3 separate regions of the Homo sapiens genome follow, and regions 1 and 2 are each linked to region 3. Evidence: fine-mapped expression QTL. A gene starts in region 3. Each other region holds a variant in brackets. All regions are shown on one strand. Distances are between the middles of the regions. Region 1 overlaps SDR42E1 (short chain dehydrogenase/reductase family 42E, member 1). Region 2 has its middle 41 kb from the start of SDR42E1. Region 3 holds the start of SDR42E1 (short chain dehydrogenase/reductase family 42E, member 1).

Region 1 (8,187 bases), 26 kb before region 3:
GAAACTGGATCCCTTCCTTACACCTTATACGAAAATCGATTCAAGATGGATTAAAGACTTAAATGTTAGACCTAAAACCATAAAAACCCTAGAAGAAAACCTAGGCATTACCATTCAGGACATAGGCATGGGCAAGGACTTCATGTCTAAAACACCAAAAACAATGGCAACAAAAGCCAAAATTGACAAATGGGATCTAATTAAACGAAAGAGCTTCTGCGCAGCAAAAGAAACTACCATTAGAGTGAACAGGCAACCTACAAAATGGGAGAAAATTTTCGCAACCTACTCATCTGACAAAGGGCTAATATCCAGAATCTACAATGAACTCAAACAAATTTACAAGAAAAAAACAACCCCATCAAAAAGTGGGCGAAGGACATCAACAGACACTACTCAAAAGAAGACATTTATGCAGCCAAAAAACACATGAAAAAATGCTCATCATCAGTGGCCATCAGAGAAATGCAAATCAAAACCACAATGAGATACCGTCTCACACCAGTTAGAATGGCAATCATTAAAAAGTCAGGAAACAACAGGTGCTGGAGAGGATGTGGAGAAATAGGAACACTTTTACACTGTTGGTGGGACTGTAAACTAGTTCAACCATTGTGGAAGTCAGTGTGGCGATTCCTCAGGGATCTAGAACTAGAAATACCATTTGACCCAGCCATCCCATTACTGGGTATATACCCAAAGGACTATAAATCATGCTGCTATAAAGACACATGCACATGTATGTTTATTGCAGCATTATTCACAATAGCAAAGACTTGGAACCAACCCAAATGTCCAACAATGATAGACTGGATTAAGAAAATGTGGCACATATACACCATGGAATACTATGCAGCCATAAAAAATGATGAGTTCATGTCCTTTGTAGGGACGTGGATGAAATTGGAAATCATCATTCTCAGTAAACTATCGCAAGAACAAAAAACCAAACACCGCATATTCTCACTCATAGATGGGAATTGAACAATGAGATCACATGGACACAGGAAGGGGAACATCACACTCTGGGGACTGTTGTGGGGTGGGGGCAGGGGGGAGGGATAGCATTGGGAGATATACCTAATGCTAGATGACAAGTTAGTGGGTGCAGCGCACCAGCATGGCACATGTATACATATGTAACTAACCTGCACAATGTGCACATGTACCCTAAAACTTAAAGTATAATAATAAAAGAAAAAAAAAATCCTATCAGCCAAAAAGAGCACTGGAGCAAATGGATTCACAGCTGAATTCTACCAGACATATAAAGAGGAACTGGTACTTATTTTACTGAGATTATCCCAAAAAACTGAGGAGGAGGGACTCCTAACTCATTCTATGAAGCCAGTTAGCACCCTGATACCAAAACCTGGCAAAGACACAATGAAAAAAACCTACAGGCCAACATCCCTAATGAACACAGTATTTCATTGAGGATTTTTGCATCTAACAAACTGAATCCAGCAGCACATCAAAAGTTAATCCACCATAAGCAAGTAGGCTTTACTCCTGGGCTGCAAGGTTAGTTTGACATATGCAAATCAATAAATGTGATTCACCACATAAACAGAACTAAAAACAAAAATCATACCATCCCAATAGACGTAGAAAGAGCCTTTGGGAAAATCCAACATCCCTTCATGTTAAAACTCTCAAGAAACTAGGCATAGAAGGAACACACCTGAAAAGAATAAGAGCCATTGATGGCAAACCCACAGCTTTAACATCATATTGAATGGGCGAAAGCTGGAAGCATTTACCATGAGAACTAGAACAACATAGGATGCCAACTTTCACCATTCCTATTAAACACAGTACTGGAAGTCTGTCAGTGCAATCAGGCCCAATAAAAAAATATAAAAAGCATACCAATAGGAAAAGAATAAGTCAGTCTCTCTTTCTGAATGATATGATTCTATACCTAGAAAACCCTAAAGACTCCATCAAAAGGCTCCTGGAATGGATAAACAACTTCAGCAAAGTTTCAGGATACAAAATCAATGTACAACAATCAGAAGCATTTCTATACACCAATAATGTTCAAGCTGAGAGCCAAATCAAGAATGCAATCCCATTTAGAATAGCCACACACACAAAATGAAATACCTAGGAATACATATAACCAATAAGTTGAAACATCTCTACAAAGAGTGCTACAAAACACTGCTGAAAGAAATCACAGATGAAACAAACAAATGGACAAACATTCCATGCTCAAAGGTTGGAAGAATCAGTATCATTACAACTGCCACACGTCCCAAAGCAGTCTGCAGATTCGTTGGTATTCCTATCAAACTATCAACATCACTTTTCACAGAAGTAGAAAAAACTATTCTAAAATTCGTATGGAACCCAAAGAGAGCCTGAATAGCCAAAGCAATCTTAAGCAAAAAGAACAAAGCTAGAGGCACCATGTTACTCAACTTCAAACTTTAAGACTACAGTAACCAAAAGAGCATGGTACTGGTACAAAAAAAGGCACACAGACCAAGTGAACATAATAGAGAACCCAGAAATAAAGCTGTGCACCTACAGCCATCTGATCTTCAACAATGTTGACAAAAGCAATGAGGAAAGATGCAATAAATGGTGCTAGGATACCTGGATAGCCATATGCAGAAGGATGGAACTGGACCCCCCCTATCTTTCACCATATAAAAAAATTAATTCAAGATGGATTAAAGACTTACTAAAATGTAAGACATCAAACTACCAGAATCTTGGAAGAAAACCTAGGAAACAGGATTTTAGACATCAGCATGGGAAAGATTTACGTCTAAGTCCTCAGAAGCAATTAAAGACCAATCTACAGAGTGGGAGAAAATATTCACCAACTATGCATCCAACAAAGGTCTAATATCTATAAGAAACTTAAACAGTTCAACGAGCAAAACACAACCCCATTAAAATGAGTGGGCAAAGGACATGCACAAACATTTCTCAAAAGAAAACATATGAGTGGCATACAAACATGAAAAAATGCTGAACATCACTAATTAGAGAAATGCGAACCAAAACCATAATGAGATACCATCTCACACCAGTCAAAATACCTATTATTAAAAAGTCCCAAAACAACAGATGCTGGTGAGGCTATGGAGAAAAGGGAATGCTTATATATTTTTGGTGGGAATGTAAATTAGTTCAGCCACTGTGTAAAGCAGTTTGGAGATTTCTCAAAGAACTTAAAACAGTACTACAACTTGACTGCAATTCCATCGCTGCGCAAGTACCCAAAGGAATGTAAGTCATTCTGCCATAAAGACACATGCACTCGTATGTTCACTGCAGCACTAGTCACAATAGCAAAGACACGGAATCAACCTAGATGCCAATCGACCATGAACTGGATAAAAAAAAGTGGTACATATACAACGTGGAGTACCACACAGCTATAAGAAGAACAAAGTCACATCCCTTGAAGAAACACGGATGCAGCTTAGGCCAAAATCCTGAGCAAATTAATGCAGCAACAGAAAACCAAATACCACACATTCTCACTTATAGGTGGGAGTTATAAGTGAATACCCATGGACATAAAGATGGCAACAATAGACACTGAGGACTAATAGAGGTGGGGAGGGTAAGAGGAGGGCAAGGGTTGGAAAATTAACTGTTGAGTACTGTGCTATCTGTTTTTGTTTTGTTTTGTTTTTTGAGACAGAGTCTCACTCCGTCACCCAGGCTGGAGGGCAGTGGCACGATCTTGGCTCACTGCAACCAACCTCTGCCTCCTGGGCTCAAGCGATTCTCATGCCTCAGCCTCCCGAGTAGCTGGGATTACAGATGTGTGCCACCACACTCGGCTAATTTTTGTATTTTTAGTAGAGAAGGGGTTTTGCCATGTTGGCCAGGCTGGTCTTGAACTCTTGGCCTGATGTGATCCCCTGCCTCAGCCTCCCAAAGCGCTGGGATTACAGGCATGAACCAACGCACCTGGCCTGTGCTATCTCGATGATGGGATCATTCATATTCCAAACCTAAGCATCATTCAATATACTCATGTAACAAATCTGTACATGCACCCCCGAATCTAAAATAAAAGTTGAAATTATTAAAGAAAAAAACCCAGAAACAAATTTTTTTTTTAGCAAACTAAGTAAAGAATACTGCCTCAACTTGATGAAGGGTAACTACCAGAAACCTACCTACACAGAACTTCATGCTTGATAAATATGGAAACAATACCATCACTTAGAATAAACAAAGGTTGTCCACTATACTGCTATTATTTAATATTATACAGGATATCCTGGCCAAAGCAATAAGCAAGAAAAGAACTAAGATAAAAATTGGAAAGGAGATGAAATTGTCATTATTTATGAATGGCTATAACCATCTACCTAGAAACCTCAAGAAAAATGAGCTAACTTGCAGAACCAGTAACAATATATTAAGGCAAGTTAGATATAAAAATCAATGTATAAAATTCAAATATACTTCCATTTATCATCAGTAACTCATTAGAATAATTCTAATAAAAAGATATTCACAATAGTAGAAATAATAACCTTAAATTACCTAGAATAAACTTAACAAAAGATATCCAAGACCTTAACATAGAAAACGCAGAATCTTGGCTAGGCATGGTTGCTCACACCTGTAATCCCAGCACTTTGGGAGGCCGAGGTGGGC[A/G]GATCACTGGAGGTCAGGAGTATGAGACCAGCCTGGCCAAAATGGCTAAATGCTGTCTCTACTAAAAATACAAAAATTAGCTGGTCATGGTGGTGTATGCCTGTAGTCCCAGCTACTCGGGAGGCTGAGGCCGGAGAATCGCTTGAACCCAGGAGGTGGAGGTTGCAGTGAGCCGACATTGCCCCACCACACTCCAGCCTGGGCGACAGAGTGATACTCCGATACTCTGTCTCAGAAAAAAAAATCATTTGCAGAAGATTCATAAATGGAGATTCATAAATGGACACAAAACTAAATGGAGACGTATACCATGTTTATGAAGGCAACGCCTCAAAACTGTACATGTCAATTCTCTCCAAATTTAACTGTAATATTAAAGCAAACCCAGTTGAAAAAATACCCTCAAGATTTTCATAGAACTATAAAACCTGATTCTAAAAGGGATATGGAAAATGTATATATAAACAGCCTGCAATTATGAAATGAAATTGAGTGGGGATATGTCTTAGCAAATATAAAAGACCTAATAAATCCTTAATAGCTGAAGTTGTGTTATCTTCACAGTAAAAGATAAACTTGAGGAGAAGGAGAGGGAATAGGGAGAATTTGAATTCAGTAGAAAGATAATTATTAATAAATTATGTTGAGACAATTGACTGTTCACTTAGAAAATACCAGGTTAGATCTTCACCTCATGCACAAAACTAAATACCAGATAAAGGTAAACAGGTAAAAAATAAAACTTTAAAGCTATTAAAAGAAAACATACAATATCTATTTCTTCAGAATGGGAAAGACCTTCATAAACAAATATAACCCCCCATGATTAATTTAGCAACAAAATTAAAACTACTATAATTAAAAAGACAATTGAAACTAAGTTAAAAGGCAACTGTTGGGGAGAGAGAAACTATCCATGATTTACATGATAGAAGATGTTACGTCTTTTACATCCTACAAATCCATGCAAAGATGATGAGCAACCCAATAGAGAAGTAGGGGAAAATATGACTATGAAATTCACATAAGAGGAAACTCAAGGTCTAACAGATACCTGGCAAGATGCTCTCGAGTAGTAATTACAAAGGGTAGGTTTTAAAAAATGAGATATTAAAAAACTCATGAGATTGGCAAATATGGAAATGTAAGGTAGTTCTGGAAATGGTATGGAGGCACTAGGAACTCTGGTGGGAGGGTAAATTTGTACAGCCACTTTGGAAGCGGATGAACAGTATGGCTGACTCAAGCCCCACCTATAATCCCATCTTCCTCCCTCATTTCCAGTAGAAGAAATTGGAGTCGGCTTTCAGGAAGGCTTTTTAAAAGAAATAGACCCAGCTGGCATTTCCCTTTGGCCTTGTTTATCTTCCCTTTTCTTCTTGCCTGTAATAATGCCTGAGGGTGCAGCCACCTTCTCAGAATCACGCGGTGAGAATCATTAGAATGAGGATCCAACAGAGCCGAAAGATGGGGCCAGTCCCTGATGTTACCACTGAGCTGCGTCATCCCACGTATGCCTACTTCCGGACCCCTTGTTACATGAAAACAACAAACTACTGTTCAAGGCACTGTTAATAATTTTTAAATGCGCAGCTGAATGCATGTCTGATACAGTAGTCCCTATTAAAATTCTAATTCCACTTCTGGATGTCTATCCTAGCAGCTCATTTCAACGTGGATGTAAGGAGATATATATATATAAGAGCATCCATGCCTGTGCTGTCTGATAAGGTGGCAAGCTAGAAACAAACGGAATAAACACCAATAAGGAAATGCCTTAATCTACCATGGTACATTTACACTATGGAATGCTGTTCAGCTGTTAAGAACTAGGTATATCTACCTTATCTGATGGCCATAAATAAGACATATTCTATGCCATCGTTGTTTGAGAAAGTAGCAATCATCTAGTGTTCTTACAAAGGCAAGCTCTAGGCCAGGCGCCACCCAGCTCACATACTGAGCCTCCTTCCTTGGCGCCAGTTGTGCCCTGAATGTGTGTCCAGGGTGGGGAATGGAAAGGCAGTCCAGGCGTTAGATCTACCAACTCAGATTTCACCTTTGCTGGTAGATGAGTCATGCCTATGCCTGGGAGACTGGCAGGGAAGTTGGGGAGGTACATGAAGCATAATCAGAGGTAGGTGGACAGCAGAAGTTAGGAAAGTTCTGATGTGGCACACAGGACTCTATCAACAGCTGGGGAACGACAGGTTTCTTGGGCAGCCTGGGGTAGGGGTGGGAGCTGGCAGTGCCACCTGTTCCTAACCTCTGTTCTTAATAGGGCTGGCCGAGGCAAAGCCATGTTATTTGTTTACTAGGTTTGAGGCAGTAAAATTACTGAAGTAATAACCACAACATTGTGAAGGACAATTGAAGGAGGTTGTTTGAGGCTGTTATCGACTCTATCACTAACACAATGACGGCTAAGTATAAGGAGAATTACCTATACTCAGGCATTTTAGATGGCTTTTTAGGTTTGGAGAAAATGAAAAGCAAAACATATATGATGCATTTCACAAATGCTTTTGGACTGATGTTGCTATACTTACTGGAAAATCAAGTTCCATTTGAATTCACCGAAATGTTTTCCTTTTTGCTTCTTGAATACTGTAGTGTTCTGTGATATAGTTAAATTTGCTGCCTTCGCAAGGTTGATACTGGAATTCTTTCTAGTGTATTATGCTGCATAATTTGTACCAATATTGACTAAATATTTATTCTTTTACATGTTCAATGGCTACTTGCAGAGGAATTTATTCAAATTTATTATAGTTTGCTACTGATATTAGCTTTATTTTGCATGTGCTGTAGAGGAATTCGTTCAGATATATTTTATTTTGTGTCTTTCCTAGTTACCAGTGTTCGGTGAACCACCGAACCAGTGTTTGCTTTCATACGACCGCGTGTCAGATCATCTACTCTTCCACCAGTAAATCTATTTTGCTGAGGGATACACAAAAGAAGCACTGAAAAACTATACATAAGATTTTCTTTAGGTAATTTTTTATTAATATTTCAATGTTGGTAGAATACTGCTACATACCCAGAATTCAGGATTTTCTACTATATTCTATTCTAGTACAAAATGAGATTTTTTCCCCTCAAAATCAGTTCACAATAACTTCTAATACATCTGTTATGAAAAATGCTTAATTCTTCATATAACTATGTGTCTTATATATAGGGTGATCGTACAATTTATTATACAAAATGGGACATACCTGAGAGTGAAAGGAAGCACTATTAAAAATTAAGGTGGGACTACAGGCATGAAACCAGAACTGTCTTAGGCCAACTAGGACATATGCTTATCATCTTTATATACCCGGTGACCTCCTATGTCAGCAAATAAAGAATATATACTAATATCAATAGATCACCATGCTGTACTATTGAGTGAGAAACCGTAGTAGCAGAAGGAACTGTGAGGTGGGAGACAGTAGTATGGGGAAAGACATGAACACCACAGCCCTGTTTTCTATACAAATATATACATATATGAAATTTGGGGACATTAGTAAAAGGGGTCTTTGGCCTTATCCGTAATAT
Region 2 (8,187 bases), 41 kb before region 3:
AGATAAAGAAGGCACAAAACAAGGATAAGGAGAATCTGAAAAACACAAGTCACCAGCCTGATCAAAGGTACATTAGGCTTCTGCAAACACAGAGTAAATTTTGGATCCAGAAAATACAAATTTTCTTCAAACACAGGACATTTACAAATATTGACTGTACAACAAGCCACAGAGCGGGAAACAATTTTAATTGCTCTAATACAAGATTAAACTTGGCGCCACATGAAAATCACAAACAAAAAGATGCTCCCCAAAAGTCCTATGATCACAAAGTTTAAAAGCTATTTCTAAAATATTTTTAGGGAATATGTTAGGGAAGGGACAAAAGTATTTCAGGAAAGGGACAGAACTGCCCAGAAAAAAAATACTAGAATTTTAAATGCATTTATTGTAAAATGAGAAAAAGTGACAATAAATGATCTACGCTTTAACTTAGAAGCTAGGGAAAACACTCTAAAGAGGGTAAAAAACAAGAAAATCCAAAAAAACAAAACTAAAATTGATAAAATGGTTCTTTTAAAAGTCAAGGGGAAAAAAAGCAGCACAAATCAACACTACCAGGAGTAAAAATAATTTTATAGTAAGACTTTTGGAAGCCTAGACAAAATAGGTAATATTATATTAAAATAAAAACGACCAAATGTCTAAGAATCACTAAAAATATGACTATTCCAATTATCATCCAAGAAATAGAAAAAACAAATAAGACTAATCCAATTATCATCCAAGAAATAGAAAAAACAAAGACATGCACCTCCCACCCCATGGCATCAATTTCAGATGATTTCATGGGCAACTTCTACCAAACATTCCAGAGAAAGTTTTTTTTTTTTTTTTTTTTTTTTTTTTTTTGTTACTGTGGCCAAAAGAAAAACCCAAAACAACATGACATGAGATTTACCCTGTTTTTTAAAGAGTACAGTACAGTGTTAACTACAGGCACAAAGTGGTACAGGTCTCTAGAACTTTTTCACCTTGCATGAGTGAAGCATTATATACACTGAACAGCAATTTCCCATTTCCCCCAGCTCCTGGTAACCACCATTCTACTTTATGCTTAGATGAGTTTCAATGCTTCAGATGCTTTACATAAGTAGAACTACGCAGTATTTGTCTTTCTATGATTGGCGTATTTTACTTAGTATAATGTCCTTCAAGATGCAAGTTGTAGCATCTGACAGGATTTCCTTCTGTTTTCTGACTGAATAATATTCCATCGTATGCCTATACCCCATGTTCTTTGTCCATTCATCTGTCCATGTACACTTTAAGTTGTTTCTACCTCTTGACTATCGTGAATGATGCTACGATGAACTGGAGAGTGCAAATCTCTCCTTCAGTTCCTGATTTTGATTATTTTAGCTAAATATGCAGAAGTGGGATTGCTAGAACGTATAGTACCTCTGTTTTAATTTTTGAGGAACCTCCACACTGCTTTGCATAATGCCTGCATCATTTTACACTTCTACCACCAACAGTGCAGAAGGTTTCCTATTTCTCCACATCTTCGTCAACACTTGTTATATACATATTTTTCTAATAATGTCCATCCTAAAAGGGTGTGAGGTGATATTTCACTGTGGCTTTTACATTTTCTTTTTTTTTTAAATTAAATTAAATTTTATTTTATTGAGACAGAGTCTCACTCTGTCGCTCAGGCTGAAGTGCAGGGCTGAGATCTTGGCTCACTGCAACCTCTGCCTCCTAGGTTCAAGAGATTCTCCTGACTCAGCCTCCCAAGCAGCTGGGATTACAGGTGCACACCACCATACCCGGCTCATTTTTTTGTATTTTTAGTAGACATGGAGTTTCACCATGTCTGTCAGGCTGGTCTCAAACTACTGACCTCAAGTGATCTGCCTGCCTTGGCTTCCCAAAGTGCTGGGATTACAGGCGTAAGCCACCACGCCTGGGCAATTTGCATTTTCTTGAAGATTAGTGATGTTGAACATCTTTTCATATACCTGTTGACCATTTGTATGTCTTCTTTGGAAAAATGTCTATTTAAGTCATTTGCCCATTTAAAAAATTGTGGGTTTTTGCTATTGAGTTATAGGAATTCCTTGTTTTTGATATTAACTCCTTATCAGATGTACAGTTTTCAAATATTTTCTCTCAATCCAGAGGTTGCCTTTTTACTCTCCTGAATATTTCCTTTGCTGTGTGCAGAAGCTTTTTAGTTTGATACAGTTCTACTTACCTTTGTTTTGTTGCCCAAGCTTTTGAGGTCATATCCAAGAAATCACTGCTAAGACCCATGTCATGAAGCTTTTCTTCTGTTTTCTTCTAGCAGTTTTATGGCTTTAAGTCTTATATTTAAGTCTTTAATCAATTCTAAATTGATTTTCACATATAAGTTAAGAGACCAATTTCATTCTTTTGCATGCGGATTTTCAGTTTTCCCAACACCATTTTTTGAAGAGACTATTCTTTCCCCACTGTGTATTCTTGGAAGCTTTGTCAAAGATCGGTTGATCTTAGGTGCATAGGGTTATTTCTGGGCTCTCTATTCTGTTCCATTGATCTATATGTCTGTCTTTTGCCAGTACCATAATATTTTATTACTGTAGTTTTGAAGTGTGTTTTGAAATTAGGAAGTATGAGACCTCAACCTTTGTTCTCTTTCAAGATTGTTTTGGCTATTTGGGATCATTTGTGGTTCTATATGAATTTTAGGATTGTGTTTTCTATTTCTGTAAAAAATGCCATTAGGATTTTGGTAGGAATGACATTGAATCTGTAGATCACTTTGGGTAATATGGACATTTTAACAATATTAAGTTTTCCAGTTCATGAACATAGGATGTCTTTCCATTATTTGTGTTTTAAATTTCTTTCAGCAATATTTTATAGTTTTCAGTGTACAAGTCTTTCATTTCCTTGGTTAAGTTTATTGCTAAGTGTTTTCTTTTTGACGCTGTTATAAATGCGATTGCTGTAATTTCCTTTCCAGATTGCTTGTAGTTGGTGTACAGAAACATAACTAATTTTAGTATGCTGACTTTGAATCCTGTAACTTTACTGAATTTATTAGTTCTAACAGTTTTTTTCCCCTTTGGTGGAATCTATAGGATTTTCTACACCTAAAATCATGTTATCTGTGAACAAAGATAATTTTTCTTCCTCCTTTCCAGTTTGCGTGCCTTTTATTTCTTTTTCTTGTCTACTTGCTCTGGCTAGAACCTTCACTAGTATGCTGAATAGAAGTGGTGAGAGTGAGCATCCTCACCTCTTTCCTGATCTTAGACGAAAAGTTTGTTTTTTACCTTTGAATATGTTAACTGTCGTGTTTTCATATATGGGCCTTTATTATGTTGAGGTAATTTCCTTGTTATTCCTAGTGATATGATTTGGATAGTCATCCCTTCCAGATCTCATATTGAAATGTGATTCCCAGTGTTGGAGGTAGGGACTAGTGGGAGATGTTTGGGTCATGGGGGCAGATCCCTCATGAATGGCTTGGTGCCCTCCCTACAGTAATGAGTGAGTTCTCACTCTTAGTTCATTTAAGAGCTGGTTGTTGAGAAGAGCCTGGCATTTCTCTTGTTACCTCCCTTGCCATATGACACACTGGCTGCCCTTCTCTTCCACCATGACTAAAAGCTTCATGAGGCCTTACCAGAAGCATATGCTGGCACCATGCTTCACAGTCCACAGAACTGAAAGCCAAAATAAATTATCCAATCTCAAGTATTTCTTTATAGCAACACAAAATGGACTAATACACCTAGTTTCCTAAGTTTTTTTAATCACAAAAGGGTGTTGAATTTTGCCAAACGCAATTTGTTTCTATTGATATGATCATGTAATTTTTATCCTCTGTTCTGTTCCTGTGGTGTATCACATTTTTGATTTGCATATTTGTAATCATTCTTATGTCCTAGGGATACTCTCCAGTCTCTTATAAGTGACTAAATCCCACTTAGTCATCATGGTGTATGTCCTTTTAATGTGCTATTGAATGTGGTTTGCTTGTATTTTGTTAAGAATTTTGCATCTATATCTGGGATATTGGTCTGCATTATTTTTTTCTTGTAATGTCTGTTTTTGGCTTTGGCACTGGGGTAATGCTGGCCTCATAAAATGACTTCGGAAGTATTCGTTCCTCTTCTACTTTTTAAAAGTTCAGAAGCATTCGTCTTAATTGTTCTTTAAATGTTTAATAGAATTCATCAGCAAAATCTTCTGGTCCTGGGCCTTTTTTGAGATGTTTTTGATTACTGATTGAATCTCCTTACTAGCTAAAAGTCTGTTCAGATGTTC[T/C]ATTTCTTTATGATTCAGTCTTAATTTTCTATTCTCTACTTTGATAACTTCTACCTTAATCTTTATTATTTCATTTCTTCTGCCATCTTTGGGCTTAGTCTGTTTGTTTCTCATTCCTTGAGGTATAGAAGTTAGGTTATTTGAGCTCTTCTTTTGGGAGGTAGGAATTTATCACCACAAATTTTCCTCTTCCTACTGCTTTTTTCTCCATGAGTTATGTTTTTGTTTTGTCTAAAGATATTTTATAATTTACCTTTTTATATCTTCTTTGACCCATTGGTTGTTCCAGAGTAGGTGTTATTTAATTTCCATATATTTATGAGTTTTCTGATTTTCCTTCTCCTACTGATTTTTAGTTTCATTTCACTGTAGTTGGAAATAAATTTGAGAATTCAATCTTCTTAAGTTTGTTAAGACTTGCTTTGTGATCTGTCCTGGAGAATATTTCTGTGTGCACTTGAGAAAATGTGTATTCTGCTACTGTTGGGTGGAATGTTCTGTATATGACTATTAGGTGCATTTGATTTATAGTATTTTTCAAGCCCTCTGTTTCCTTATTGATCCTGTGTCTAGATGTTCTATTCATTACTGAAATCTCCTACTATTATTGCGATGCTGTTTTTCCCTTCAGTTCTGCCGATGTTTGTTTCATATATTTAAGTGCTCTGATGTTTGGTACATACATATTTACAATTATTATATCTTCTTGGTGAACTGACCCATTAATCATTATCTGTCCTTCTTTGTCTCTTGTAGCAGCTTTTGACTTAAAGTCTATTTTGTTTAAGTATGGTCACCCCTCTTTTAGTAGCTTAGCGTATCTTTCTCCATCCTATCACTTTAAGTATATGTGTGTCATTAAACTTAAAGTCAGTCTCTTATATACAGCATCTAGTTGAATCTTGTTATCCTTCAGCTACTTTGTGTCTTTTGACTGGGCAGTTTAATACATTTACATTTAATTATTGATAGGAAAGGACTAACTATTGCCATTTTGTTAATAATTTTCTGTCTGTCTTGCAGCTCTTTTGTCCCTTTTCTTCTTTCACTGTCTTCCTTTGTTGATTTTTTGTAATTTTTGTAGCTAACATAGGGCTTACATGAAACATTTTATAGTTGTAACAATCTGTTTTAAGCTGATAACAACTGTAATCACATTGAAAAACTCTACAGTTTTACTCTTTCCTCCAAACTTTGTCAATTATGTCATAAATTTTATCTTTTTATATTGTGTATCCCTTACATATTTTCATAGTTTTTAAATACTTTTGGCTTTTAACATCTGTACCAGAATTAAAAGTGATGTATACACTAACAATATAGTATTCTGTGTTTAGCTATATACTTACCTTTACCAGCAAACTTTATACTTTCATATGCTTTTGTATGGCTGCTTAGAGTCTGTTTAAACTTCAAGAACTTTAGTATTTGTTGTTATTCAGGCCTAGCGGTGATGAACTTCTTCAAATTTTATCTGAAAAAGTCTTTATTTCTCCTTTGCTTTTAAAGGACAGTTTGCCAGATACAGTATTCTTGAACAACCTTTTCTCCCCCTCCTTTCAGCACTCCCAATATACTGTCCCATTCTTTTCTGGCCTGCAAGGTTTCTGCTGAGAAATTCACTGATTCTTATGGGAGTTCCCTTGTATGTAATTAGTCCCTTTTGTTGCTCTCAAAATTCTGACTTTTGACAACTGATGTCTCAATATGGACTTCTTTGAGTTTATTCCCTTTGGGTCCATTTTCTTTCAGAGATTTGACAAGTTTTTGGACATTATTTATTTAAAGAAGCTTTCTGTCTCTTTATCTCTTCTACTTTTGGAACTAACATAATGAGTATTTTGGTCTGCTTATGGTGTCCTATAAGTCTGTGAGGCTTTTTTCTCTTCCTCTTCCTTCCTTCTGTTCTTCCTTCCTTCTCCTTCCCTCATCTTCCTCTTCCTCTCCTTCCCCCTCCTCTTACCTCTCCCTTCTTCCCCCTCCCCCCACTTCTCTTCTTCTTCCTGTTTTTGCTCCTCTGGCTGGATAATTTCAATGATCTGTGTCTGGGCTTTCTGTTCCCAAAAGAGAAGGAACACACGAACACACACACACACACACACACACACACACACACACACACACACGTGAAAGCTTTCTGAGTCAGGGTCTTGCTCATGTCACCCTGGCTGGGGTGCAATGTTAGGGTCACAACTCACTGTAACTTTGAACGCCTAGGCTCAGATGATCCTCCCACCTCAGCCACCTAAATACCTGGGACTAAAGGCATGCAGCCACATGCCTGGATAATTTATTTTTTATTTTCTGTAGAGATGGGGTCTTGCTATGTTGCCCAGGCTGTTTTCAAACTTGGCCTCAAGCTATCTCCTGCCTTGGCCTCCCAAAGTGCTGGGATTACAGGCATGAACCACTATTCCTGACTACAGAATATATTTTTATTGAATAAAAATTATAAGGTGACAGACCAAAAAAAAGAGACCTCCTAAGCTCATTTTAGGAGGGTAGAGGACAATCAAGGAAGAGAGGGAAAATCAAGAAAAGTGAAAGGAACAGAGAGAAAGGGAGGGAGGATGATGCCAATCTCACTGTTAAATAGAGTAGAAATCCTGAAAAATATTTGCAAACCAATGTTCACTTGTTCATAACGTAGAGTTAATCTCAGGAATCCAGTAATGGTTTAATATTGGAAAACCTATCAATGCAGTTCTCTACATTAATAGATTATGCTTTTCCATAAGGAAATTGATAATATGAAACACATATGCCACATAAAAGCTTTTAGTGAATTAGTGTTTTTTTTTTTTCCAAGGTGGTGGATTAGAGGTTTTTAACATGCCTCAGCCACTTGGAAATAGCAAAGTAGTGCCTAAACTCTCTGAGCTTTAATTGGAGAAGGAAAATTGGAATCCACTAGAATTGTAAAGAAAACCTCAGATCCTGGGTAGAAGAACACAGGCAAACAGCCCCTGTGATGATGTCTAGTTCATAAAAAGATTGTAGTGCCCCAGGGCCTTCTCTGGTTGACACCCAGGCAGATCTCCACTGACCTGGATCAGCAGCCGGAGTTGCCCCACTCTTCCTCTGCAGAAATTGTGGTGAAACAGGGCCCTCTCCGCTCCATGCCCAGGCAGATGTCCAGGCATTCAGAGCACCTCCTTGCCTGAATGAGTAGTCTGAGCCAGCCCACCCTTCCTGTGTAGAGACGATGGTAAAGCGAGGACCTCTCTGTCCCATGCCCAGGCATATCTCTAGGCAGCTGAAGCACCCACTCTCCTGAATTAGGAATTTAGGCTGACCCCTGATCTGTACAGATAACTTGGGGCTGAGGAGGTTTTCCAGCTCCATGCCTAGGCCCACCTCTGGGTATCTGGTGGCTGCCCACTGGATTCTCCCTCAGCACTGGTGCTTGTGCCTGCCACTGGGGGACCTGTAGGTAGGCCTACCTGGTCTGGTCCTGCCCATCATGCCCCCCTCTTCCTGGGGCTAAGCAGGAAGCTCAGAGGACTGTGCATTCCATGCATCAGCCCATTTCCTGAGGCAACGGCGAGCTTCTAGTAGTAAACAAAGGGCAAGTATATACCCAGCATGTTGGCTGCAGCTGCCTCTTACCCTTAAGTACCCTCTACTGGTTTGTAAGTCAAACCACAAAGCCTAATACAAAACCTGCCAAAAGTAGTGCATAGGGTTATAGAAGCAAAGCCAAAAGACCCTACCCACATTCTCTACAGTCACAACTCCTGGGGGCAGTAGCGGGGGTGGTGTGGGGAAGGGAAAGGGAAAGAAGAAAAAACCGGTAATATTATAGAGAAAGAAAAAGAAAAGAAATCCTACCCACATGAAAATAATTACAAGAATTAGAAGAGTCAGCATCTCCAGATGAGAAGGAACTAGCACAAGAATTCTGGCACCATGAAAAATCTGAAT
Region 3 (8,187 bases):
TCCTCACAATGCTGATGACAAAGAAATGAAATAATTTTGTAACTGGTATTTCCCATCTGTTTCCCAAGCTACAGTATAAATGCCATGTGAGTACAGACTGGCAATATCTATAGGGACAAGGAATATCTAGCAGATTGTAGACCCAGTAAATATAAATGGGGTGAACATTTTGCAAGCTCTTCAAATGCCTCTTTCTGTCCTATCTGCAAGGAGTACTACACTTGTACTTTCTTCTTCACTAGGTCAGCAGTTTGCCACGTCTATAAATTGAAGTAATACCAAGTAATTGAATTAATATCTAGTAATTGAAGTAATATCAACTGCCACTTATTAAGCACTTACTCTCTGCCAGGCATTGTGCAACACTCTGTCTGTGAATTATTTCACAACCCTCTCAGATGAGTACTAATTTGTTAATTCCATTTTACAGGTGAGAAAACTGAAGCTCAGAGACACAAAGTGCCTAACTCCAAGTCCTACAGCTAGCAAATGGTAGAGCAGGGATCTGTACCAATAACCCAGGTGCATCTGACTCTACAGTTCATCTTAACGCAGCAGCACTCGAGGCTGTGCAGAGCCCCTACCTGAAGTGCTTGGTACTGACCTGAGTCCTGTGAGGGCTTTCACTGTTAACACATTCTGCAACCTCATTGTGGTTCCTGCAGTTCCCAGAGAAAATGAATTGGAGGTGGCCCATCTTCTCCCATGTGGCACAGGTAGCACTGATGAAGGGTTAAGACTCCCAGTTTGGAAATCTGGGCATTAGACTTGGCTCTTCCACCAATTCCCTGTGTTACCCTAGGCAATTCACTGAACCTCTGTTTCCTCCGCCCTAAAATAAAAACAGCAACAACCATGGCTACACTTATTATTTATTATGGGTTAGGCAGTGATATGGTTTGGCCGTGTCTCCACCCAAGCCTCTTGTTGAATTGTAGCTCCCGTAAATCCCACGTGTCCTGGAGGGACCCGGTAGGAGGTAATTGAATCATGGGGGCGGGTCTTTCCTGTGCTATTCTCATGATAGTAAGTCCCACAACATCTGATGATTTTATAAAAGAAAATTCCCCTACACAAACTCTCTTGCCAGCCACCATGTAAGACGTGACTTTGCTCTTCCTTTGCCTTCTGCCATGATTATGAGGCCTCCCCAGCCACGTGGAACTGTGAGTCCATTAAACTACTTTCCATTATAAATTACCCAGTCTTGGGAATGTCTTTATTAGCAGTATGAGAATGGACTAATACAGTAAATTGGCACTGGGTAGTGGGGTGCTACTGTAAAGATATCTGAAAATGTGGAAGTGACTTTGGAACTGGTTTACAGGCAAAGCCTGCAACAGTTTGGAGGGCTCAGAAGAAGACAGGAAGATGTGGGAAAGTTTGGAACTTCCTAGAGACTTGTTGAATGGCTTTCACCAAAATGCTGACAGTGATATAGACAATAAAGTCCAGGCTGAGGTGGTCTCAGAGATGAGGAACTTGTTGGGAACTGGAGCAAAAGTGACTCGTTATGTTTTAGCAAAGAGACTGATGGCATTTTGTCCTTGCCCTAGAGATCTGTGTAAGTCAGAGCTTCAGAGAGATGATTTAGGGTATCTGGGGTAAGAAATTTCTAAGCTGCAAAGCATTCAAGAGGAAGCAGAGTGTAGGTTTGAAAAATTTGCAGCCTAATGATACAAAAGAAAAGAAAAACCCATTTTCTGGGGAGAAATTCAAGCTGGCTGCAGAAATTTGCATAAGTAACAAGGAGCCAAATGCTAATCATCAAGACAATGGGGAAAATGTCTCCAGGGCATGTCAGAGACCTTCTTGGCAGCCCCTCCTACCAAAGGCCCAGAAGTCTAGGAGGCAAAAATGGTTTCCTGGGCTGGGTCCAGGGTCCCCCTGCTCTATGCAGCCTAGGGACTTGGTGCTCTGCGTCCCAGCTGCTCCAGCTGTGGCTAAAACGGGCCAAGGTACAGCTCAAACTGGGGCTTCAGAGGGTGCAAGCCCCAAGCCTTGGAAACTTCCATGCGGTGTTAAGCCTGTGGGTACACAGAAGTCAAGAACTGAGGTTTGGAAACCTCTCCCTAGGTTTCAGAGGATGTATGGAAACTCCTGGATGTCCAGGCAGAAGTTGGCTGCAGGGGTGGGGCCCTCATGGAGAACCACTGCTAGAGCAGCATGGAAGGGAAATGTGGGGTTGGAACCACCCCACAGCGTCCCCACTGGGACACTGCCTAGTGGAGCTGTGAGAAGAGAGCTACCATCCTCCAGACCCCAGAATGGTAGATCCACCAACAGCTTGCACCGTACACCTAGAAAAGCAGCAGACACTAAACGCCAGCCCTGGAAGCAGCCAAAAGTGGGGCTGTACCCTGCAAAACCACAAGGGTGGAGCTGCCCAAGACTATGGGAAACCACCTCTTGCATCAGTATGACCTGGATATGGGACACGGAGTCAAAGGAGGTCATTTTGGAGTTTCAAGATGTGACTGCCCCGCTGGATTTTAGACTTGCATGGGGCCTGTAGCCCCTTCGTTGTGGCCAATTTCTCCTTTTTGGAATGAGTATACTTACCCAATACCTGTACCCCCATTGTATCTAGGAAGTAACTAACTTGCTTTTGATTTTACAGGCTTATAGGTGGAAGGGGCTTGCCTTGCCTCAGATGAGACTTTGGAGTGTGGACTTTTGAGTTAATGCTAAAATGAGTTAAGACTTTGTGGGACTGTTGGGAAGGCATGATTGGTTTTGAAATGTGAGGGCATGAGATTTGGGAGGGGCCAGGGGCGGAATGATATGGTTTGGCTGTGTCTCCACCCAAATCTCACCTTGAATTGTAGATCCCATAATTACCACGTGTCCTGGGAGGGACCCAGTGGGAGGTAACTGAATCACAGGGGTGGGTTTTTCCCATGCCGTTCTCTTGATAGTGAATAAGTCTCAAAAGATCTGATGGTTTTATAAAGGGGAGTTCCCCTACACAAGCTCTCTTGCCTGCCACCATATAAGACGTAAGATGTGACTTTGCTCCTCTTTTGCCTTCTGGCATGATTATGAGGCTTCCCCAGCCATGTGGAACTGTGAGTCCATCAAACCTCTTAACTTTATAAATTACCCAGTCTTGGGTATGTTTTTATTAGCAGCATGAGAATGGATTAATACAGGTAGTTTAAAGGTTTAGCATTTAAGCCTCAGGACAATCTTCCGAAGTTGTTACTAGTATTATCATCAGCTTTCAGAAATGAGGAAAATAGATCAGAGGTTAGGAACCTTGCCCACAAATTATGCAGGTCATAAGGGGTTGGGCAGGGTTCAGGACTTGAAGCCGGGTCTGTATGACTCTTAACCACTACATGTAATGCCGCACAATAAGGCTGGGACAATACAGATTCGCTTAGGTCATTATCTTATCACTGTGAAAGGAAAATAAATCTTGGGGTCCCAAGATCACTAAGCTAAAGGGAAAAGTCAAGCTGAGAACTGCTTAGGGCAAACCTGCCTCCCATTCTATTCATGTATCTCTGCTCACTAAAATAAAGGCATATCTGATTGCTTCCTTTGGAGAGGCTAATCAAACTCAAAATAATGCAACCATTTGTCTCTTACCTACCTATGACCTGGAAGCCCCCTCCCCGTTTCGAGTTGTCCCGCCTTTCCAGACCGAAAAACATGTTCATCTTACATCTGTTCTTGTCTCATGTCTCCCTAAAATGTAGAAAACGAAACTGGGCTCTGACCACATTAAGAATACATCGTCAGGACCGCCTGAGGCTGTGTCATGGGTACATGTCTTCAACCTTGGCAAAATAAACTTTCTAAATGAACTGAGACCCGTCTCAGATTTTCAGGGCTCACTCCACCTCCACAATTTCTGTCACATCTGATTCATCTGGTATTATGACTAGCCTATAAGGTTTTGTTTAAACCTACTTACCTTTTCCCAACAAATACATGCAGTTTAAATGGGAACCTGTCACTGCCACTTTTAAGTGGCAAACCAGAACCAAGTGATAAAGAGGAGGTAATCGTTCTCCCAAAGTGTGCAGAAAATCAAAGACAGGAATCAAGTATAGCCAGCCACCTGTGGAAAGTTCGGAGCTTGGGGCCCCGATGTCCTTAAAAACAAAAAATGCGGAGGGCCAGTGTTTGAGGCCTTGGCGACATTCTAGAAAGCCAAGCTGCGCCCGGTCCCCTGGGATCAGGAAGACATCTGAAAGGGGATACTCCTTCCCGCCACCCTGCTCAGTCATTCACCACCGTCCCCCACCCCCGGGACCGCCACCTGTCGCGTTCCAGGCCGAGGCGGTCCAGGGTCCCCGCGGAAGGGCGGCGGCCCCCCAACCCCAGCCCAGGCCCACTCACAGCTGCAGGAACAAGGGCGCGGCAGACGGCTACAGCAGGCAGAGAGGCCCAGGCCTCCTAGCTACCCATCACCACAGCTGGGGCGCCGAAGCCGTCGGACCTGCCTCCTGGAGCCACTTCCGGGCCTCTCTAGGAAGCCTGGAGGTCTCGGAGTCTCTATGACGCGCAGGTGTCTCCTTCACCTTCACCGGCGTTGAGGTAGCAGGAGGTTCGCTTCATGAATTCCCCCACGTTCTCTGGCTGTGCGTTCCGCCGTGGCGGGAACCCTTTTAGGGTCACGTCTTCCCCCACGTCCCCTGTCTGTGCGTTCCGCCGTGGTGGGAACCCTGTTAGGGCCACGTCAACTGCTCTTCCCACCTCCAGTGTCTGCTTTTAGACTTTCACCTCCATCTTTGTTTATCCCCAAGGCCAAGACCAGTGCCTGATAAATAGGCACTCAGGTCAGCATTGCTTGGGTGGATGGATGATGGAAAAGGCTCTATAGGGAGGCAGAATATTCACTCTCCATGTATCTCTTTAAGTTTCTATTATCTCTGAGTTTCCATATCTATGTGTGCCCATAGGTTTTCCTGTGTCCCTAATTTTCCTTATTTCTCTTTGTTCTGGTCGCCAAGCAGGCAGTGATGCCAAGACTAATCTTTGTTGCTGAAGGAACCAAGGAATGCAGAAAGGAAAGTTGGCATCCTCACTCAGAGGTCTCCTTTTGAGGCCCATCTTTTGTCTCCTCATCATGAGTGTGGTTCTGTGGATGGTTGCAGACTGTACACGTGTATGGACATGCATCCTGGAATGGACCCCTGGCTGGGGAGGATTTCATTTTAGTGTCTTGGAGGATGGAAGTTTTGACTTCATGTGGTGCTCTTGCCGATAGATCTGGTACCAAAGGCAGACTCAGAGAGGTTCATATCAATTGCCTGATTTACTGCTCAGTTTTCACTAAGCACACACAGTCACAAGGACAAAGCTCAAGTCCTAGGATATAAAAATTAATGAAGCCCAGGTGAAGAAATCAAGAAGTGCCAGTCCCTGGCACTGGCCTCTCTCATAGGATGCTCTGGCTTTCCTGCCTGTCTTGTCCTCACCTATTAGGCAGGCATAAGTCACAGGAGACTTCTTGTGCTAAGCAGTCTTAAAGAACAGCTTTGCAGTGGCTGCTTAGGATACATAAAAATTAGAAGAGAAGAGGAAGGGTATTCAGGGGGCTGAGAGACCAGCTATATGCTCTTGAGGCCAGCAGCTAAGGAAGAAAAGACCCACTGAGGATGCAGTAAAGAAGACAGACTTCCTTTGGGGAATTACAGGATCCTCTGAGGGATACCCAGATTTAGAGTGTGTGGATAAACATGAGAAATGGTGAATTTAAATGTTAGTATTCTTGTGCCACCGAGGACTCTTTTAAAATATAATCAGGCGTGTTTTAAAGGAAAATTACAAACTCTATAATTGCTTCCTTAGCTTCCATCATAATTTAGTGAGTTGATTTTATAAAGGTCTGACCAAGAGATCTAAGACAGAAATGACTGGAGAAAGAAATTAACTTCAATGTGAGTTTGTATATCAGTGTTTGTTTAGTATTGTCTTCCCCCAATAATATGTCCAGGCAGTGGATGCATCTCAGAAAGATCAGTTTGCTGTCACAATTACTCACAGGTGTGCAGTATTTTATTTCTCACTCCGATCACAGTCCAATTCAGTCTGCAGGGAAGGGGAAGAGTGCTGTGCTCCACATAATCACTCAGGGACCCAGGCTTCCCCCATTTGTTATGCCATCATGTTCAACTCTTGGCTGCCAAGGTCACTACAGAAGAGGAAGTAAGAGCTTGGCTTTCCCCAACACTTTCACTTAAAGTCTCCTGCATCCCCTTGAAATTCTTCAATCTCTTCACAGCACTTAGCTCATCTGAAATTATCTTGCATGTTGCTATAATGAAAGCTCCGTGAGTGCAGAGACCTGCTTGATTGATTGGTGTATCTCCACTACCTACTATAGTGTCTGGCATAGAGACAGAATTTTTTTTTTTTTTTTTTTTTTTTTTTTACTGGTGAATGAATCAGCAAATGAATATATGTCACATTTCTGGTTGTCCCTGTTCAAAATCCCAGGCTTGCAAACGACACCTTCTTTTGGCCCAGCTTGGATCAGAAATCACCTCTACCATTGTCAGCTGTGGCAAAAGGACACAAGAACTGCTATAAACTGTGGTCATTTCTAAAGAACGGAAATTATTGTGAGCTTGGTAGGCACATGAGAACTTTGCTATCCAAAAGTGTGGATCAGTAACATCAACATCACCTGAGAGCTTATTAGAAATGTTGGGTCTTGGATCCCATTCTAGGCTTAATAAATACAAATCTGTATTCAGCAAAATCCCTAGGTAATTCCTATGTATAGTAAAGGCTGATAAGCACTGCCCTAAAAGTGCTATGACTTAGTAGTAGTAGCACTACAACTCTCTGAGGTGGGTAAGAGAAACCTTGTAATAGTTCCACACTGCATCTGGAAATCAGGTGAGTTTAAGTGACTTACCCAAGGTCACAGAACTAGTAAATGACAGACCTGTGATTAAAAGCCAAGGCTTCTGGCCGGGTGCGGTGGCTCACGCCTGTAATCCCAGCACTTTGGGAGGCTGAGGCGGGCGGATCACGAGGTCGGGAGATCAAGACCATCCTGGCTAACACAGTGAAACCCTGTCTCTACTAAACATACAAAAAATTAGCTGGGTGAGGTGGTGGGCACCTGTAGTCCCAGCTACTTGGGAGGCTGAGGCAGGAGAATGGCGTGAACCCAGGAGATGGAGCTTGCAGTGAGCCGAGATCACGCCACTGCACTCCAGCCTGGGCGACAGAGTGAGACTCTGTCTCAAAAAAAAAAAAAAAAAAAGCCAAGGCTTCTGACTCCCATATCCTCCACATTCCATCTATTTCACCATGCAGCTGTCTTTCCTAGATAAACCTATTTTCTTTCACTAATAAAAAAAATATAAAGGGGAATAGACAGAAAAAAATTGAGCTATATTTAAACAGTGGTTAATGGCTTCAATAATTGATTTTAGAAAAGAAAACAAGCATTTATCACATGCAGTACATTTCATAAAATGGTTTTCCTCATTACATATTAAAGAACTCTCCAAGTAACATAATGTTTATATTTCATTTATTCAGCAATTAAGCAACTTAATATTCTTTTAGAAGCATTTATAGCACTTATTAAGAATTATCAAGCATACTATTTGGGTCAATGGCTTTTCTTTTTTCCTATTAAAAACTTTTGAAATAATTCATTATTGTTACCCTTGCCTCTCTCAGTACTGATTAAACTAAGTGTTTAAATAGTGCTGACTAAACCTACATGTTATTGTGAGTGTCCTGGCAAGGGCTCTGTGTTCAGTGCTGAAGCATTAGGGGCTCTCCTAGAAGGACACAAAGGACCCTTTGAGACAGTAAAGCTTATATTTGCCATTTTCTTGTCTCACTGTTTTCAGGAATTGAGAAGTAAGGATACCCACTATGTTCATCAGGTTTCTTTGGGTTGCAAATCATAGAAATCCATCCCAATATAGATAAATCAAAAGTAGGGATGCTTGGCTCCTGTAACTGGAAGCTTAAAAGGTGGATCTAGTTGTCGAGCCTCAGACATCATAGAGTCCTGTCTCCTTATCTCTTGGCTCTGGATAGAGAAAGGTTAGTATAGAACGTGTCAGACATGGTTTTCCCCAAAGAAGGGATTTTTGGCACACACCAAATAACATCTCACTATACCAATTAACGAAATCAGTTTGTGCTTTGTGGAAGATTGCCAGTTGTTACTCAAAATGTCTTTCCCTTCTTCCATAATAA

The links. PIP is the estimated chance that this variant, and not a neighbour inherited with it, causes the effect.
Region 1: its variant is fine-mapped to the expression of SDR42E1 in aorta (GTEx, PIP above 0.99). The same link has a PIP of 0.9 or more in esophagus muscle, sigmoid colon and whole blood.
Region 2: its variant is fine-mapped to the expression of SDR42E1 in blood mononuclear cells (TOPMed, PIP 0.94).

The regions. Positions count from the first base shown.
Region 1 is chr16:81,981,231-81,989,417 of GRCh38, forward strand. It overlaps SDR42E1 (short chain dehydrogenase/reductase family 42E, member 1), which reads right to left. Exons shown (of 3, transcript NM_145168.3): 3 at 7,625-8,187. Among named protein-coding and RNA genes, the nearest start is that of SDR42E1, 26 kb to the right of the region's middle. The variant A/G (reference allele first, on the strand shown) is at 4,639.
Region 2 is chr16:81,966,148-81,974,334 of GRCh38, forward strand. No RefSeq gene overlaps it. Among named protein-coding and RNA genes, the nearest start is that of SDR42E1, 41 kb to the right of the region's middle. The variant T/C (reference allele first, on the strand shown) is at 4,264.
Region 3 is chr16:82,007,037-82,015,223 of GRCh38, forward strand. It overlaps SDR42E1 (short chain dehydrogenase/reductase family 42E, member 1), which reads right to left and starts at 4,434. Exons shown (of 3, transcript NM_145168.3): 1 at 4,351-4,434. LOC112268169 (a long non-coding RNA gene) reads left to right here. Exons shown (of 2, transcript XR_002957879.2): 2 at 431-858. RefSeq lists a silencer at 4,209-4,358 and enhancers at 4,599-4,688, 4,699-4,778.